Linked DNA regions of Homo sapiens. The protein of the gene in region 2 interacts with the protein of the main gene of each other region in a pairwise test. Each region holds a gene or a part of one and is shown on either strand. Other genes may lie near its edges.

Region 1 (6,572 bases), on a different chromosome or scaffold from region 2:
AAATTTGTTGCTTGAGGATTACAACAAATTTACACACACACACACACGTGGGCATATGAACCACATACAAGGTATAAAGCATGACCTACAAACAAAACATTCTCAGTTTTAAGTATCTGAATCCCTTACACCTGGACATCTTTACCGTGTAAGGTTTCAAAAAAAGAAAAAGAAAAAAAAGGAAGTTACCAGATAATGACTCCGCAGCTTAAAAAAATAAAAATAATTAACACCACATACTAAGAATTCCCAACCCTTGATGAGTTACAAACTAGATAGTTGAGATTTTATCAGCCCTGAAAAGTTTAGCTCTATTCTTCAACTGTACAGAAAACATACATTATCTAAGCAGGGCAAAGAACTGCTTCAGTATGTATTGCTTTATTAGGTCAAGATGATTTCCCACAATACTTAAACCTGAAAAATTCATGTTCAAACAGCCAGGAAACATTTCGGCAAAGGAAGCACTTAAAAAAAAAAAAAAGAAAAGAAACCAATCCTTTTATTGTACAACTTAATAATTTAATGATTTCTGTACTTTCAAGTTTAAGAATAAAAGGTGACAGTTAATGTTTAAAACTGGAAACCAGATAATCACACAAAAATCACATTTATTTCAAGAGCTCAAAGTGCAAATACAGCAAGTCAGTTCACAAAGTTTCAAGATACAGTTTTTAATGACAATGGAAATTTGATATACAAAAATGGAAGGGTAAATAGAAATAAAGCTCCTCAATTTTTAAAAAAATTCAAGTAATTTGAAAAGCCTTTAGACTAAAATACTCCACTTACATCCATTCAGAAATGCCAGTACTGCACTGCAATCAAGAAGGACTCTTCAAAGAGAGAATCAGCTCAAACTGGTCAGCTCTAGATTAGAATGGAAGTTCTTGGTGCCGGCTTTTCTTGATTTGGAAGCTTCAGTCACTCACTGCTATCAATTGATGAGGTTCAATCCATGATATTTTGATCTTTAGGTGAATTCTAAAACATGTTTAAAGTTAAAAAGGCCGGGCGCAGTGGCTTACACCTGTAATCCCAGCACTTTGGGAGGCCAAGGTGGGCAGATCACTTGAGGTCAGAAGTTTGAGACCAGCCTGGCCAACATCGTGAAACCCCATCTCTACAAAAATACAAAAATTAGCTGGGCGTGGTGGCGGGTGCCTGTAATCCCAGCTACTTGGGAGGCTGAGGCAGAAGAATTGCTTGAACTGGGAGGCAGAGGTTGCAGTGAGCTGAGACTGTGCCACCACACTCCAGCCAAGGAGACAGAGTGTGGCTTTGTCTCAAAAAAAAAATAAAAAAAAAGTTAAATATAAGGCCAATACCACTATGAAGAATTTTCTGAAATGACCAGTATATATCTAAAAGATTTAAAGACCCAATGTGAACTTCAGGCCTATGGTTTTACTGGGAGAAAAGCCATAGATTAATACTTCTAGTATCCAAAACCTTCTTGGAAGCTTAGGAACATGGTCTTTTAAAACTTCCTCATGAAAACTGTACTTAAATATATATTTATTCATTTCTACATATATAGAACTTGTAGGTAAAGTAGAAAAAGTTCCCACTAGGAAGGTAATTAAAGGTTGTTAATGTTCTTTTTATCACTTAGTAGCCAGAAGACATGCTTATTTCTGCTCTCCAGAAGCAATGTTAGCTACTAGTTTCTGAATTCAGGAAAACGTTTATCTTTCAGGAAGGTTTACGTGAGATATTTATTCAGTCTTTTTCTCAAACTTCTTCCTCTTTTCATTATAGGCATTATACTGAGAGTCTGTTCCAAAAATTCGATCCCACCATGTAAATGTTGAAGCATAGTTTCCAATGAAGTTCATGTGGTGGAAATCATGATGCCGAGAACCAGCATAGAAAGGGATCAGATTTAAAGGGTTGAGAGGAATATCATAACCACTGAAACAAAAATGATAAAGATTATTAAGGAATAAATACATCTCAAATGATTGTTGTTTTTATTAATAATCATGTGTTCACATTAACCAATTTAGATAACATGCCACTTTGCCTAGACCACTTTATTTCTAAGTGTTCACAAACAGCAAACACAGAAAATGGTGTATATTCTAGAAACCACTCTAAGAAAAAAAATCCTTAAAAAAACTAAGAAAATCATTTATTTTATGATAAAATATATGAATGATGGAAGAGACGGATTATAGTAATGAATCTTTAGACACAGATTTTTAAGAATTAATTTTCTTTTATGTTTTAGAGGAAGCTTTCTCACCATCATGTATAACAGTTGTAAATAAAGCCCAAAATACTAAATATGTTTTTTAGGAAAAGTCACATAAAATTAGTATCAAGTATTAAAAAGGGCAGGCCCATGAATCCCTGTATAGCAACTTCATTTACTTTTTTAGGCAATGACAAGTTGGAATCAAATGTACCACAATTAATCAAAATACCAGTGTACTTTTCTATAGTTGGCAGAAGACAAATGGCTTCAAAAAAGAGTCCCATTTAAAGTATGCTCCTTTATTTCCAACTACATATCTACAATCAGACATCCAGTTATACTTATTTGAATCACTCTAACCCTCTCTTCCTTTGAGGAGCTTAGAGGAAGGAAGGCAGAAAGAAACAATGGATAGAAAAAAAAAAGAAAGAAATGTCAATTACAATTTTTCTACAGAAGAATATTCTCTGCCTAGGACTAGAAGCATTAATTTTGCTACTTTAGCACTTTAAAAATAATTCTTAGAATTTGATATTCTGCATTCATGAGTACAGAAGTATGTCCCAAGTCAAAATGCAATGAACATATAATTAAAAAATAATGAACAATTAGGATAAGCATTTAAGAAGGCATTCAATATAAATAATTTACCACAAAATGTCTTCCAATCAACAGAAAGGATGCATTTGAAATATGTATGTGTTACAAGTAGTAGTTTCATCTTGCAAGTGCCTTTATCAGTGCTGAACAGTAGAGATTAGAAAGTCTTATTCAAGGAAGGCTGAATGCTTTGATATTTTTTTCAAATATGAGTTAAGTTTAGGTTTATTACAGAAGGATAAGGAAATTGCTGGTCCTGAATATATACTTGCCCTAATAACACATTATCACTATAAAAATTATAACAGCATAGGCTAGAATGTAAAAACATCTATTATTTAAACTTTTATCCAACAGTTATGTTTTCTTAATATAACATTAAGAAGATTAACTTCTCCTATTAGTCTCCTTAGAAATATGATAATCTTATGGCCATGAAAATAAATATATTTCATTATGCTTTATACCTGAACAGAAATTAATACTCACCTATGGACATCAATAGTTTCTAATAAACGAATGGTCACCCATGCCCAAAGAAGAATTACATGATCACACAAAAGCACGATTCCAATGAAAAATCCAGTTCCAAGAATTAGAGTCTCCAAAGGATGTGCATATTCAGCTTCCATTCCAAATGGAGCCTAAGACAAACAGATAAGAAATTCTTAATTTCTTAGCTATTGTGATGGTCAATTTTATGTGTCAACTTGGCTAGGCTATGATATCCAACTGTTTGATTAAATACCAGTCTAGATGTTGTTGTGAAGGTATTTTTTAGATGTTGTTAACATTTAAATCAGTAGACTGAGTAAAGGTGATTACCCTTCATAATGAGGGTGGGCTTCATCCAATCATTTGAAGGCCTTCAGGATAAAAGGCTGAGGTTTCCTGAAGAAGGATTCTCGAGACTGCAACACTGAAACCCTGCCTGAGTTTCCAACTTGCTGCTCCATGGAATTTGGACCCAAGGCTGCAACAATTCTTACCTGGATTTCTAGTCTGTAGCCTGCTTTACAGATTTCAGACTTGACAGCCGCACACTTGCATGAGCTGATTCCTTAAAATAAATCTCTCTCTGCATATATATACCCCAATGATTCTGCTTCACTGGAGACTTCACTAATATATATATCCTATTTATGCATAAAGTTTTACAAAGTTATATTGATTCTATATGTAGTGATGATTTATCTAGTCATACACTTATAAATAATACTAGCAATTCTCAATAAAAATACCTTACTCCACATCAAAAGTCTAGGGATATAAAATCTTGCTGTCTTTGATGGTTTAAGATAAAGGCATTAAATAATTGACTTGAACTCTAATTTTGACTTAAGTATTTATATTTGTTCTTCTAATAAAGAGAGGCTTGATTTGGCACACCATGTAATCACGGTCAATGCAAAACATACTCACATAACCAGTTGACAAAGCTACATCAAAGCAATTCTAATTGGCCGGGCATGGTGGCTCACGCCTGTAATCCCAGCACTTTGCGAGTCCAAGGCGGGTGGATCACCTGAGGTCAGGAGTTCGAGACCAGCCTGACCAACATAGTGAAATCCTGTCTCTACTAAAAATACAAAATTAGCCACGCGTGGTGACGCATGCCTGTAATCCCAGCTACCTGAAAGGCTGAGGCAGGAGAATTGCTTGAACCCAGGAGGTGAAGGTTGCAGTGAGCTGAGATCATGCCATTGCAGTCCAGCCTGGGCAACAAGAGCAAAACTCTATCTCAAAAAAAAAAAAAAAAAAAAAAAAAGCAGTGCTCATAGAAGTTACTGTTTTTGTGGGAGTTAGCAATGTGAGGATCTAGCTGTGCCAGTGTAGCACTGTCCACAAGGATGGAAGTCCGAACTTTCATATAATATTTTTCTTTCAGATCTCAATTTACCATGAAATTTAAATAATGAAAACAATGTGTAGAAATGGCTTGTTTGTATGTGTGTGTATTGTTCTTAATAATCATGCCAAAGGAAAAGAAAATAAAAACGTCACCAACAATTTTAGAAAAATGCTCAGGCAATTAAAATAGACATTTTGCCTCTAACAGAAAGAATTAAATATAACTCTCACATACCTGAAACTCATGATGAACTTTATGAATATACTTGTATATTCTTTTGTGGTGTAAGAGTCTATGCAGAAAATAGTGCCAAGTATCTTCAATGACTGCACAACCAAAGCATCTTGCCAAAAGAAAATACCTTTAAGATAAAAATGTTGTAATGTGTAAGAAATAATTTTTACTTAAACTATCCAGACTTTTAGTTGGGATCACTGCTTGAGACATTACATAAAACCACCCACCCACTTACCAGGTTGACCTAATTGGATATATTCATAAATAAATTCTCAAAACCACCAGATACAGCTACATAACTTGATATAAGGTTAAAGAGACTGCCCATTAGACCAATTTCATTTCATTACAATGTTCACACAACTTGCCTCATGACACTTTTCTCAAGAGATATCCGTTAAGTGACGCATGAGTATATATATGTGTGTGTATATATATATGTGTGTATATATATATATATATATATATACACATACATATTTTTGTTCATGTAAACACAATTTCTATAAACCTCATAAATGATTCTCATATATTTCATTCATTTTAAAATTAAAATGTAATATATTTTTGTCAACATAAGCACTTATACATGTATATAAACATACAAAAGACGTTATGGAAACTTCTGATACTAGAAGCTCACCTTCCAATAAAATATTTAAAAGATGTAAAAATGGAAACATTTTAAGATTTTACTGTGGTTTACTTTTCTACTATTTATTTACTTCCAAAGTTTAGAACAAACATTAACTAAAATTAAGAAAACGGGTAAACATTAAGTATAACTTAACTGAATAAGCCACAATTGGGTGTAAAAGCCAAATTTTTATCTACGTACCATCTTGGCATTCTTTCCCAATCATAAGGAATATTGAAATACTCTGTAAAATAATAGGTTCCACAAATCAAAGGCAGCTGGATACAGAAGTGATTAAAGAGAAGAACTTTGAAACACTTCCATTGGTTTTCCCATGTCTCTGGCTTATCCTACGAAGAAAAATCACAATATCTAATATTAGTCTCTGCTATCAGAGTTTAACTTGACCTAATTTGTTCTCTGTTTATGTTGGACCTTAATTCTACGTCAGTTATGTTAACTTTATATAACTAAGACTCAGGAATCTTTGCCTTCTAAATTCTTGACAACTACTATCACTACTTCAGGTGAAGAAACTGTTAACAGATGCGCCTAGCCATGATGATCTCAAACAAACTAAGAAACACTATGGAATGAATAATTCTCCAGTCTTTGCTGCCACAGATCATTCACTTCACTTCTTTTACCAGAAGTTTCAGAGAAGAAGAAATATAATATGCTAAGATTACTGTTGGGTGTCCACAATTGAAGAAGTTGTATACGAAGCATTGGAAGCCTTTTACACAGTAAGTCGATGCTTCCAGGCACTCAGTGGTATTCATTCCAACAAATAAATGCACTTTTGTTCAAATCCAATGACAGAATTATAAACTCTCTGAGTTGAGAAGTACACAGATATGTCCTGATTATGGAGTTCACAGATTCAAGTCAAAATGAGAAAAGTTAGATCAACATGGGATGTTCGTTAAGACCTCATCAGGATACCCATTTGCTTAGCAAGTCATTATAAAAAACAAAGCAAAACAAAACAAACACTAACTAAATGTATTCAATTTATAGGACTGCACTTAAAAAAGTGCTTTGGG
Region 2 (8,152 bases):
ATCTGGCCAGAAAGTAACTGTTGCTCAGAAGGCCTTTTTTGTCTGCGGAGAGGCGAGAGAGCTGAGTAAAGACCAAGGGGGAAAAACGGGAGCTGACTATGAGATCTGCTATTAAGAGATAAAGGAAAAGATGACCTTCATGCTTTCCTCAAGGTTATGCAGCAAAGTCCTCTAGAATAAGCCACTGAATCAGGAACAGAGATATGCCCCTCAAGGGGACAAAGGAGCAGAAGAACAATTCAGTGAGTGTGGACTCATGCAGAGGGTGCTCAAGGTGCTCCATTATCTGGTTCCTGCCCATTCAAGAGCGTTATCTCCCACCACTCCTCTTGTCCCTCACCTCTTCCCCACCTTATCCCTCACCACTCCCATGGCCCCTCATCTCTCCCCTTGTTCCTCACCTCTCCTGGACATACACCTCACCCTCTAAATATATTCAATTAGGCCAGCCGCAGTGGCTTACACCTGTATTCCAGTACTTTGGGAGGCCGAGGCAGGCAGACTGCTTGAACTAGGAGTTTGAGAACAGCCTGGGCTACATAGCAAAACTCCATTTCAACAAAAAATATAAAAATTAGCCAGGTGTAGTGGCATGCACCCATGGTCCCAGCTAATCGGACGGCTGAGTAGGTAGGAGGATCGCTTGAACCCAGGAGGTTAAGGCTACAGTGAGCCATGATCGCACACTGCAACCAAGCCTGGGCAACAGAGCAAGACCCTGTCTCAAAAACAAAACAACACAACTCTCTTATCTGCAATTCTAAGCCCACCATGCCTAATGTGCCCTAGTCCTGACATATTCCTGGAATGCCCTTCCCACTTCCTTTTTTTCACTCTCTGACAGGTCTCTCAATGTTTAAGACAGTTCAGGCACCACCTATTCTAGGAAGATTCCTTTGGGTCCATATTAAGAACAAGTGGTTCTTGATTGAAGGAGTCACAGCACCCACTGTAAACACCAGCATGAGAGCTCAAATCTGCCACTGTCTTTCTCATCTGAGTAGACTGTAAGCTCTTTCTGAGCAAAGACCACGTATGCTCTCTATATCCTCACAGACACTGAAAATATCAATCATAGACACTTAAGACATGTTTGCTGAATGACTGAACACATGTGACCCACAGTAATCTACAAAGGTATAATAATGACTATTTTTACAAAAAAAGAAATGTGAGGCTGAGAGGTTAAATAACCTGCCCAAGTTTTAAAATGATCAGACTCACAAGCCCATGTCATTATTAAAGGGCATTTTAAAATAACAGACTTGATATAAATGATGACTTCACTGTAATCATATAGCAGTCATCAGCTTACATTTCTGACAAAATTCTGAGGTGCACAAAGATTGATCACTTGCTAACGAACATGTAATAGGCACATTCTTAACCAATATTGCCTTCAGTTTCCTTAGCTATAAACATGAAATTATCGCCTACACTTTGCAGTATTTGAGTGGAGATTAAATGAGAAAACATCCAAATGCCCATTCTAGTTCCTGACACACTGTTGAAATGTATCAATAATGTTAGTTTCTTAATTACTCTAGAGTCTTTTCCTCTTAAATAGGGAGCAAGAGCCCAGGGAATCCCAACTCTTTGACTTATCTCTAAAATTTGATAAACTTACCTAATCATTTACGTTACATAATGAGGGTAATAAAATGTGGAACATGTCTACACAGAGGACTGCATACTAATAGCACCAATTCTCAACAGCAATTTGGAGAACAAAAAAACCAAAAAAACCTCTATATGTGATTAAGTCTGTATAGCACCTACCCTGAGTGGAAAATTTAAAGGTCGGCGGTAAGGCTGAAAGCCAACAGGCCCTCCCTGCTGGAGTATGGCTTGGTGGGCTGCATGAAGGCCTTCTCCCACCACAGGAATAGCGTTGTTATTTCGAGCATGCTGATTATTGTTAACTTGTTGATTTGCACTGTTTTCATTTTCTTCCTGGTCTCCCAATAAATAAGAATGAAGATCCCTGTGCAAAAATTACATCAGTAACAAGTCTCACTTCAGGTCACAATAAAATGGCAGACATGACACTCATTTTCTTCATATTTACTACTAAGGGTAGAAAATGTATAATACAGAATTTGTGCACCACATTATTACCTAATTTTGGTCTAAATGTTTGTACCCACTTTAAATCAAACCTTTCTAATGTTAATGAACTTGTAGGATATCCCATAAATTCAACCTATTTTACGTTTTCTTCAGCCAGTATCTGAGAAGAAATCAGTAACTGAAAGAAAAAAGTACAATGTACAAGATACTTACAAGTACACTTGTAAGTACAAGAGGTAAGTACTTACAAGCACAAGGTGTAAGTACATACTTACAATGTACAATATTGTTAAGGATCTACAGGAGGAAAAGAAAAACTTCTTATCTTCTCTACAGATGACTACTGCAACATGTAGCTACAAGCTATAAATTTGTAAAACCTCCAAGCTATAAATCAGTTAGGTCAGAAATGAGACTGGGGGAGGAAGCAGTTAGAGGACGACAGATGTTCAAGCAAATATAACCAAATCTGTACTTCACCTTTAAGATACCTACAAGATGCCAAACTGAAAAACTTTTAAAGATTCAACTTTTAAATAAATATAGAGTATATAAAGCTTGGGGAAAAAAATGCAACATGTTCACTAGAAGATTGAGAAATCAAATTTGAGAAGAACCCATTTCCCAGGTTATGAGCACTAAATAAAGGTAAGTTAGTTGGTCTAAATAAAGGTAAACTGGTTTGTTTTTAATGCACTAAAAAAAAAAAAGACATTTACTCCATGAAAGCTGGACCAGCAGCAAACTTCTATAAGAGGGCAAAAAGATGTATATATTCTCCATGAAAGGATGGACAATAAGAAAAAAAAATTTCATTTAGAAGTATTATATGCAATTGCAAATATTACTAAATTGTCTCTTATTAAAACTAATTTTTCTTGAGTGGGCCATGGAACATACTTTTTCCAGAAAGGTTATTCCATAGTCACAAATGACATGCATGTCCAAGGAGTCAGCTGCCCATACTCACAGCAAGTATCCGGCGGTCACAGTCCACGCTCGCACCAGCCCCTTCAGCCACTGCCTCGTGTGTCCCTGTTCGAGTAATGCTGGCAAGACAACCTGAAGCAGAAGCAGCTCGAGGGACAGTTCACTCACTGGAGCATCACTGAAAGAGGCAGGATTTATAATGTGAATTGTATTTTGCATATGACTACTATTTAATGGGATTACAACGCAACTTCTTAAGAATCTAATAAACTTACTGTCTTTATTACCTCTCCTTTCATTCTCTCTCCAACTCAGTGAGGCTTTCCCCACAAACTCCACCAAATTGTTTCTGATAAGGGTCACCAAAGACTTTCATTTTGCTAAACTGATGGGTAGGTCTTGGTTCTCTCCTCACTTGCTATATTAGTAGCATGTTACACAAAAGGTCACTCCTTCCTTTGACACCTCACATCCAAACAGCTAGAGAATCCTTTTGACTGTACCTTAACAATATCCTAAAAATTTCTCAAGGCCTCCACTGCTACCTCCCCTTCATCTCTGCCACCCTCACCTCTCACCAGGATCATTGCATTATCCTCCCAGCTGGCTTCCTGTTTCTGACCTAGCCACTCCAACCCAGTTTCCTCTCATCACAGCAGTCAGAATGATCCTCTTTAAACCTAAGTTAGATCACTCCTTTGCTCAAAGCTTTCCAAGAGCTCCTCAATTCACTCAAGCAAAAGCCAAAGTGCTTATGTCGTGTAAGACTCTCTAGGAGGTGGCTCTCCATGACCTTTCTGACTTCAGGGCCAATTCTTTGCCTTCCTCCTCCTACTACAGACAAACTTGCCTCCCTGCAGATCCTCAAACAGACCTGGGTGCCACTGCACCTACTTTCTGCAAGAATATTCTGCCTTCAGGGATCCACGTGGCTCACTCTCTCAACTCCTTCAGGGCTTTCCTCAACTGTCACCCCCTCAGGTCTTTACCAGTCACTATTCCTAAATTGTAACCCCATCCTGCCCACTTTCTATACCCTTACTGGCATTTTTTCTGCCACTTTAAATAATCAGGATATAAGTATTTTCCAATTCTAATTTAATAAAATACAAATTTGAGATTTTACTATGTGTAGAGTAAACCTTTTATTTTTGAACAATCATGTTCCTATGCAAAGCATTAAGATCCAAATAAGAGGCTGGGCGCAGTGGCTCACACCTATAATCCCAGCACTTTGGGCGACCAAAGTGGAAGGATTGCTTGAGGCCAGGAATTCAAGACCAGCCTGGGCAATATAGTCAGACCCTGTCTCCACAAAATATTTTTTTAAATTAAAAAAAGAGAGACAGAGAGAAAAAGACCTAAATAAGACATGATTTCTGCCATCTGGGATAAAACAATACATATTTGTAAAGTAATGTAACAAATGCTATAAAAAGAAATACAACGATGAAGACAATTTTAAAGGATGGAATGATGGCCAGGCACAGTGGCTCATGCCTGTAATCCTAACATTTTGGGAGGCTGAGGCAGGCAGATGGTTCAAGCTCAGGAATTCAAGACCAGCACAGGCAACATGGTAAAACCCGGTCTCCCCAAAAAATACAAAAATTAGGCAGGTGTGGTGGCTTGCGCCTGTAGTCTCAGCTACCCGGGACGCTGAAGTGGGAAGATCACTTGAGCCCAGGAGGTTGAGGCTGCAGTGAGCCATGATCATACCACTGCACTACAGCCTGGGTGACAGAGCGAGACTCTTTCTCATAAAAAATAAAATAAAATTTAAAAACCTTAATCTGGATTTTAAAAAGAATATCAAATGCTTGCCACTCAAACGTGGACAAGCAAGTCATTGTAAACAGAGAGAAAAAGACAAACAGCTAAGTAATCAGGGGAGCCTCAATGGCAGTGTAGCACAATTAAAAGAATTGAAGTCAGTCAATGCTGAGACAAGACACTGAAAAAGCAACATGAGATTATGCCAAGTCTTGCATCTCATTCTAAATGGTGTATATATCACATAGATTACAGAGGAAGTGCTGCCAACTTTTAAACACAGGGGTAAAATAATCCAAGTTCTAGAAAATCTAGAGGCAGAGGTGTTGCGGATGAATGGAGAGCAAGAGGAAGGCCTAAATTAAGTAAGTGGCAAATCGAGTTAGATTAGTAAGAGATTTTAAGAAATTAGAATTGGCAATACTTTAAAGACTCATTAGAAGTAAACTTGAGGAAATAATCCAATTTGCCTGCAATTGGGATAATGACTGTGGGGATAATACAAATCCCTAAAGAGCATATAGGATGAGTGGTAAAGATTACTGGTAGTGGGAGGTTTCCGGATGGCTTTTTTTTTTGGGGGGGGGGGGATGCAGTTTCACTCTTGTTGCCCAAGTGGGAGTGCAATGGCACGATCTCGGCTCACCGCAACCTCTGCCTCCTGGGTTCAAGCGATTCTCCTGCCTCAGCCTCCCGAGTAGTTGGGATTACAGGCATGCGCCACCACGCATGGCTAATTTTTTTGTATTTTTAGTAGAGACAGGGTTTCTCCATGTTGGTCACGCTGGTCTCAAACTCCCAATCTCAGGTGATCCGCCTGCCTCGGCTTCCCAAAGTGCTGGGATTACAGGCGTGAGCCACCACGCCTGGCCTTAGCCCACTTAAGTTTTTAAAGCAAAAAAGATGTTCCATCTACAAGCCTTGTACCCTATTTTTAATAATTAAATGTGCAACTCTGGCTTTATTCTTTATAATGTGCTTTTCAAAATAAAGATGATGCTAATACACTCTCATTAGGTATGGTAAAACATTTCAATGGTGTGCAAATGCATACTTTATGCGCAGAAAAAATAAACATCTTCCTTTACAAAATGTAAGTACTAATGTTTATCTGATCTAAAATAAGGCAAAATTTATGCAAAGTGGAAAAGGTCCAGAAAATTTTTTAAACATTAAATTTAATTTAAAAAATAATAAAAATAAAGGTAAAATAAAGCAAAATTTAATTGTCAGATGATTTCCAGTAACTATAAGAAATGTTTTAAATGTTTAATGTAATCTGAACATCAAATCCCTAATAGAGATAAATTAGTAAAGCTATTCTAAATTTTTAAAACTTACCTGTAGAGCATGACATTGTATGGAAGAAAATTAGGCAGCACACTCTTAATTATACGTATAGGAAGCCAAAGCATCAGGAGGACAATGGAGCCAAAGACAATCTGCAGAAGGAAACAGGGTATGACACCACTATAAGAGTCAATCACTCCTGTGCAAGACAGGCAGACTTCTGAGCACACTCAAGCAATATGCAGTCCAGGCCTGTGTCTACTCAAAGCCCAAGCGGTTCCCACTCTACACATTATCTTTGAGTCATTTTGTATAAAAATGTTTTCCTAAGATGCCTGCCCCTCTTCCTGTAAGGACCTCCCATCTAGGACACAAATGCTAAAACGGAAGCCACAAAGGATAATCACCACTTGCTACCTAAGGAATGAGCTGGAAACTTAAAATGAGGAAGCAGAAATGCCTGCAACTTAATAAATCACTTGTAACCAGCTAAGACTTGCCCCATGTTAATGGCTACAAAAGCTTTCAAAGGACATAATGTTACTTTAAGAATTTTATTTTAGAAAAACTTAGATTTACGGCTGGGTGAGGTAATCCCAGCACTTTGGGAGGCTGAGGTGGGCGAATCACTATGTCAGGAGTTCGAGACCAACCTGGCCAACATAGTGAAACCCCGCATCTACTAAAAATACAAAAATTAGCTGAGCTTGGTGGTGGGCGCCTGTAATCCCAGCTACTTGGGAGGCTGAGTCACAACAATTGCTTGAAACAGGGAGGTGAAGGTTGCAGTGAGCCAAGATCATACCACCGCACTCTAACATGGGTGACAGACCAAAACTCCATCTCAAAAAAAAAAAAAAGAAAGAAATTAGATTTAACTATGTAATTTCTTCTTCTGGGTGGGGAAACTTTGACATGCTTCTGTTAAGAGTTTAATTTACAAGCCAGTAGTAAGTCTCCATTGCTTCAATGCAAATTAAACGTAATTCAGACAACCGTAATTTAGCAATCAATCATACCAGTGGTCCCCAACCATTTTGGCATCAGGGACCAGTTTCATGGAAAACAGTTTTCAACGGGATTTCAGGATGAAACTGTTCTGCTTCAGATCATCAGGCATTAGATTCTCATAATGAGCACACAATCTGGATCCCTCGCACTCGCAGTTCCCAATAGGGTTCCCGCTCCCATGAGAATCTAACGCCAAGGCTGATCTGACAGGAGGTGGAGCTCAGGTGGTAATGCTTGCTTGACCGCTGCCCATCTCCTGCTGTGCGGCCATTCCTAACGGGACATGCACCAGTACCCAGCCAAAACATGGGGGCTAGGGACCCCTGAATTATACTACTATGGAACAAGGAAGTATCTTCCTTTTAGTAAATATCTTTTTACATATTTATTTTAACAAAGTAACCAATAACACAGCTACTTGACAACTGAATACCACAGGCTTAGATAAATATATTATTCAATATACTCTATCAGCCTGCTTGAGAACTGGAAAAAAAAACCTAAACAAAACTATAGGTTAGCACAATTAATTCAAAAAAAAAAAACAATGGAAACATCTTCTTACCACTGACAAAATAAATCTTCGGAGATGCCTATATATTGGCAAATGGATCATTTCCTGTACTGGATTGAAATCTGGATCATTCAAATTCCTTAGAAACCACAGGACACCAGGTCGAAGTACCTGCAAATATATTTTAAATACTATGAATATTCACCAATGTCTTCAAATTCTATATATGAGCTAAAACATTAACAGAAAGATAAGCACTTAGAATTATTCTGGCATCTAAAGTGGGCCCCAGAAAATGTACATGGTATTCTTAGGAAAGTAAGTTCCTAAACCAGAATCTTTATGAAAACTACCCTGTGTCTGATGATGTCCTTTGACATCATCATTCACTAGGGGCGGGGGAAAAAAAAAACATTCATTGGGTCCAATGTGTCAAGAAATCTAGACCTCTGAGACGAAAAATAAATACAACCATTACTATCGTAAAAGGGTTATGTTGCAATTTATAAATGTACTAAATAGACGGTCTGATTTGCCTTCCCCCTGTAAATGAAAATCATCACC

The links. The genes of interacting proteins can lie anywhere in the genome.
Region 1: the proteins of MARCHF6 (region 2) and MSMO1 interact in a protein complementation assay, tested with the Homo sapiens proteins (one study listed by BioGRID).

What each region holds. Positions count from the first base shown.
Region 1 is NC_000004.12:165,337,093-165,343,664, reverse strand, and holds the end of MSMO1 (methylsterol monooxygenase 1), read right to left. Parts: intron 5,877-6,572; coding exon 5,728-5,876; intron 5,014-5,727; coding exon 4,887-5,013; intron 3,445-4,886; coding exon 3,290-3,444; intron 1,915-3,289; coding exon 1,719-1,914; 3' UTR 501-1,718; downstream 1-500. UniProt on the Homo sapiens protein: Catalyzes the three-step monooxygenation required for the demethylation of 4,4-dimethyl and 4alpha-methylsterols, which can be subsequently metabolized to cholesterol.
Region 2 is NC_000005.10:10,405,165-10,413,316, reverse strand, and holds part of MARCHF6 (E3 ubiquitin-protein ligase MARCHF6), read right to left. Parts: intron 7,760-8,152; coding exon 7,640-7,759; intron 6,216-7,639; coding exon 6,115-6,215; intron 3,179-6,114; coding exon 3,041-3,178; intron 1,985-3,040; coding exon 1,780-1,984; intron 43-1,779; coding exon of another isoform or gene 25-42; exon of another isoform or gene 1-24. UniProt on the Homo sapiens protein: Endoplasmic reticulum membrane-associated E3 ubiquitin ligase that plays a critical role in mitigating endoplasmic reticulum stress, the regulation of cholesterol and lipid homeostasis, and ferroptosis.